Regions from separate parts of the Homo sapiens genome. Here region 1 is linked to region 2. Evidence: fine-mapped expression QTL. A gene starts in region 2. The other region holds a variant in brackets. All regions are shown on one strand. Distances are between the middles of the regions.

The links. PIP is the estimated chance that this variant, and not a neighbour inherited with it, causes the effect.
Region 1: its variant is the best candidate, but not a certain one, in a credible set for the expression of RNF20 in monocytes (TOPMed, PIP 0.75).

The regions. Positions count from the first base shown.
Region 1 is chr9:101,574,443-101,576,942 of GRCh38, reverse strand. All of the region lies in intron 8 of GRIN3A (glutamate ionotropic receptor NMDA type subunit 3A), which reads left to right. Among named protein-coding and RNA genes, the nearest start is that of PPP3R2, 19 kb to the left of the region's middle. The variant T/C (reference allele first, on the strand shown) is at 1,481.
Region 2 is chr9:101,532,665-101,535,695 of GRCh38, reverse strand. It overlaps RNF20 (ring finger protein 20), which reads right to left and starts at 1,843. Exons shown (of 20, transcript NM_019592.7): 1 at 1,782-1,843; 2 at 144-298. The coding sequence starts at 272. It also overlaps a transcript of PGAP4 not described here. RefSeq lists an enhancer at 1,972-2,101.

The sequences.
Region 1 (2,500 bases), 42 kb before region 2:
GCCTCAGATGAGGGCACACCTCTCATCATAACAGAAGAAAAAGGGATGGAAAACAGGATTCTTTTTGTTTGTATCTTTTCTGGGACTGCTGCAGTCCCCTTCTATGCAGTCTCCATCTAGCTTGTTGGAATCATTTCCTTTATCTCTTGAAGTATCTCTTTCCAGTCAATGAGCACTCTCCCCTCCCCTCTCAGTCTGTGGTATTCCTGCATCATATTGCAAGTGTGTTAGTGACAAGCTGTATACTAGTCCAGTCACAGCTGTTCCATGACATGTTACATCTATTTTTTCTATTTTTAACATAAATTTTTAATAACAGTAACACAAGAAGACATAGCAGCAAATGTATCATCTTACAATGAAAAAATATTTGTTTTCCAGCTATAATAGAAACAGGAAGCCCAATGATCCCATCTCCAACTGTGATATGATTCATATTCACATCTTTCTCACATAAATTGAAAACCATTTGTGTCTTTTGATGCAACTTACCCAGTTTTCTTGGCAGATTCCCTTCCTGAACCCCTTATTTTGAGGATCTAAGGAGAACAGGTGTTCATGGTTTAGCTTGGGCTCACATTTCCTGTGCCTACCTCTATACAACCCAACATTAGCAACCTGTCAAACACAATGAGTGTTTGGCGTACCATAGCCGTCATGTCTCTTTGGAATAGTCCAGTGGAGTATTGAACCTCAGTGTTACATAATTGCTCCAGGGAAGCCTATTTTACCCATTTTTAGTGTTAAATACAGCTCACTCACTGGTCATGTAACACTCTAAGACTGACGAAGGCTTGAATCAAAGCAAAGCCTAAATGTTACTGAGGCTAGGAGTATAACACCAGCCTTGGGTTATTTTTTCCAAGTAGACACTGAGTCTTACACTCAGCATTTGTCACCTTGCACTCATAGGTACCCACATCAAATATCAGATGCCTGGTGATACTAGCAACTAGAATTTGGCACAAAGTCCAGCATTTGTTTATTCTTCTATATTATATTACCAGATAGATATACAAAGCTCTGGAGAAGACCAGTCCAGCTATCTTTACTTACCTTATCACTGTGGCTGTCTAGACAGTTGAAGAAAATGTGTAGATGCTCTACTCTCAGGTTTTCCCTGCTATGAACCATTGTAGGGCATTAGAATGCTCTCCCTCTCTTCTCTTGGAAGTATATCTATGCAAATGCTCATGCATGCTACAACTTGACATCCCTCCTCTGTGCCCCATATTTACTGAACAAATAAAAGAGCAAATAGATAAATGAATGAATTATTAACATGGGTTTGAGGAAATGCTTGGAGAAATTTTGGGCCATGATATGGAAGTAGGTATTGTCCCTTTCTCATTTAATGCAAAGAAAATAAGGTACATATTGCAGGAGATGATTTATATATAGCCCTGGGTTTATTCAACATGTGATTTCACATAAGGTTTTGGTCTATCTTTCATCTCACTGGGTTCCCAATCAATACATG[T/C]CACCCCTGTTTTCCCTTTCCTCTCACCCCAAGACACACAAAAATTACAAACTACATAACAGCACAACCAAGATTACTTTAAGATTATTCAAATTCAATAGGAAAAGATTTGAAGAAAAAAATTAAAGGGAATTATAAAGCTAGAAGAAAAATTACATCTCCTCTCTGACTCAGGTCTAAAGCCAATGGAGCTATAAGTGGGTTCATTACAGAACTTTTACCCAGCCCAGGATACAAGAAAACTGAGCTCTGGTACCCTCTGCTCATTTATATAAAACTTAGACTATGAGGCATGTTAAAGAACCACAGGGTGGTTTGGAGTGTGTGTTTCAATGGCTTGGGTCATGTATAAGTTGGTCTTTGCTATGTGATAAATCATCCCAATACTTAATGTTTTAAACAACAGCAAGTTGCTTACTAATTCATGGATCAACTGTGCAGTTTGCTGATCTGAGCCAGACTTGGCTGAATTTGGCTGGGTTTGCTCATATGTCTGTAGCCAACTTTGGGGGATGGGGAAAGCAGCTAAGGGCTGTCTGGTCTATGATGGCCTCAGCTAGTCAACTGGGAAGCCTGAGGATTCTCTCCATATGGTCTACCATCATGCAGCAGGCCATTCTGGACTTGTTCACATTGCAGCAGCAGGGTTCCAAGAGAGTGGAAATGTGCAAGACTTCTTAAAAGTTTAGGCTTGGAACTGCCACTCTGATATGTCTGCCACTTTCTGTTGCCCAAAACAAGTTGTGAGAACACTCCTAACTGAAGCGGGGAGGAAAGCAGATTCAGCATAGGTACAAGCTGCAAAGTCACATTACAGAGGGCATAAATGAAAGGAGAAAAGAAGGTTTATGGCCACTTTTACATAAAGACTTTATTATTCTTCTCTTTCCCCTTCTCCTTCCAGATTGTCCCCTTCTCCTGGCAAGTAAGAGTCCAGGAAAAAAGTCAATTCAGTTACATGAATGGGAACAAAAACACAATGGCTTGGTAGGGTGTTTCTATTTAGTTTTGTCCTGTGGT
Region 2 (3,031 bases):
CATTTTACCTACTTTCAGCCTGTTTTATTTCCCTCTTCTTTTCAAATAGCTTCCCCATACTCCAGAAAGCTTCCATGAATTTTTAGTTTCAAGTTGCAACTGACAGAAGACAAGCACACTTTCATGGCACTGTTTCCTCATACCGTTGAAGAGACACCTCCTAGCTTAATTGTTTCCACTGTGGTCCCTGAATCTTCAACAGCTGCCTTCTTCTCAGGAGGCATGGAGGTGCCAGGTTCTCCAGCTGCTCTTTTATTTCCAATTCCTGACATTTTGGCAGAAGAAGACAGTCGTTTTCCTGATAGAAAAAAAGGCAGAAACTGACATAATATATGTAAGCAAAGCAACAATAGAGTAAAACAATAGAGTAAAAACTAGCAACTTTTCTGGCCAACCCTTTAACCTGGATCCATTAATTCCACAACCATCTCCATATTTCTCTTTGAGGAAAAAAAAAAAAAATTAAATTGTAGAGTAAAAGTCAAGGCGGGCCGGGCGCGGTGGCTCATGTCTGTAATCCCAGCACTTTGGGAGGCCGAGGCGGGCGGATCAAGAGGTCAGAAGATCGAGACCATCCTGCCTAACACGGTGAAACCCCGTCTCTACTAAAAATACAAAAAATTAGCCAGGCGTGGTGGCGGGCGCCGGTAGTCCCAGCTACTCGGGAGGCTAAGGCAGGAGAATCACTTGAACCCGGGAGGCGGAGCTTGCAGTGAGCCGAGATCGCACCACAGCACTCCAGCCTGGGCAACAGAGCGGGACTCCGTCTCAAAAAAAAAAAAAAAAGAAAGTCAAGGCTAAATTTACATGACTATAAATTTCTAAATAGGATGGTGATAAGAATGGTGATAAGAAATGAGACAATGGGCAAAGGGTGAAGAGACCAAAAATAAAGTTCTGGAATCTCTCTTCCTGTAATGCCAAAATCAGAAAAGGGCAGTTTGATTATGCCAGAAGTTAATACTACAGTGTTGAAAGAATCACAGAGCTGAAAGAGATCTGTGAAATGCCTACTAAAGTCATTAGTACTAGACAAGTCAGTTATCATCTCTAAGCCTCAGTTTCCTAACCCAGGAATAAATAACCACAGTATATACTTCCTATGCTTATTATAAAATAAAATGGATGATATAATTATAGAAAGAATTTGGCACAAAGCCGAACACAAAGTAAGCACTCAGAAACCCCAGCTCTTCTTTAACGTTTGCAGTGTTTTCCCTATTTCCAAACGCTCTCTCCACTGTTTTATGCAACCCTACGTTAGTTAGACCTGGGTGCGAATTTCAGTTCTGCCTGTTAGAGGCCGTGTTGCTTTGAAACAGTGAATTCGCCAAGAGCTTCAGTTTCCTCAACTGCACAATATTAACGAATATATTTTTCGTCTGCCCTGCCTACCTCCCAGGGTGCTCAAAGGAGGCGGAATGGATGCTAAAGCACTTTGGCTACTTCAGGAAACAACGCAGCCATCACCGAGACTAACAAGACTACTCTGCTTCCAATTCAAGCTCCAGGAGAGGACTATCGCTGGCAACAACCTCAGTAGGACCTCGCCTGGAGAGAGAAGACACAGAAGCAGAACAAGGCTGCAATCCAACTCGCTAAAAGCCAAAGACCTCAGCCTCAGCGTGGATAATTGCAGGCCCAGGAGACTGACGGCCCCAAAACTGGAGAGGGTGGAGACTCCTGAGGCCTGGCACAGTCCTGTTGGGCCCTAAGCGTGATCTAACCTAAGTTCTTTGAACTGGCGCCGCGCGGGAACAGAACTCGCAGCAGTTACTCACCAAGGCCCGTGCAGAGATTCCAGCTCTCACCCCTGACCCGCGGCGGAGACAAGGCAGAACTTCCGGGAGGCGGGGCCACGGAGAGGAAAAAGGGAAAGAAAAAAGGAAGTGGCTTCAACCCAGCCCATAGGACTATGAGACCCCGCCGGGCGGAAGTGACGTACGGAGAGGGCACGAGAAGCTTGAGCAAGCGCCGCCTCCCTAGCAACGCTGGGCAAGCGCGGGACCCTCTCCTGGCTACGACCTCTAAGAGTACTCGGGCCTCGCTGATGCCTGACGGAGAGCCCTTGGCTTTTGTTGACTTGTTGACCTTTGCTACTGCGATCTGGTCTTTCTGCGGGGATAAAGTTCCTCATTCTGTTGCTTGTCATTGGGGTTGCCATCACTCGTTCAGACGGCCGATTGGCTGACGGTCCCGTCAATCTCCGGGGACATGACTAGCCTCAGACACCTCAGAAAATTGTTCGTTGGTACCCCTACGTGCTGAAATGAAGAGTTCTGGAGAGAATCTGAGGGATTTGAGGAATTTCAGATGTTGGGGATTTTTTCCCCCGCACAGGGAGCGGTATTCTGCCCTGTCTACACATTAGAATCACTTGGCCTGGACAAAAGCTTTTTTAAAAAAGCGTTCCCCTCATCTCCTCCCCCCAAACCCCGCATTTCCATCCACTAGATTCTAATGCGTAAGCAGGAGTGACAACTACTGCCCTTGTGCTTTTTTGGGAACAAGAAATTGTCCAGGGAAAAGATAAACGCCAATCAGTCTCTGATCTCAGTACTAGTCTATTTTAAGCTAATTAAGCATTGATTTTTTTTTTTAAGTTTATGACAAACTGCTATTTTCCATTCAGTTAAACTAAATGCGTTTTAATGATAGGACGGTAATTAATCTAACCTATTAATGAAAAGCTGTATGTCTCGCAGAACTATGATAAACTACCTAATGACGTCAGCTAAGGGTCTAGAAATGGAAGAATGATCGCTATATCTTTTTTAAAAAATAGAATTTAGGCATCTTGGGAAAAAAAGAAGCTAATCTACACTGGATTTCTGTTAGTGTGAAGACTTTTGTCCCTGTACCTGCTAGGGCTTACCTGTAAATGAAGTAAGATGGTCAACACCAGGGAAACAAGTGTTCCTGGTGCCTGGCAGTGGAACACCTTGACTATCTTGGAAAGAATTAACTGGCCCCAAGTGGACTTCACATTTCATTCCGTGAAGTGGGAGCCTGAGAACATGTGAGTGGGGAC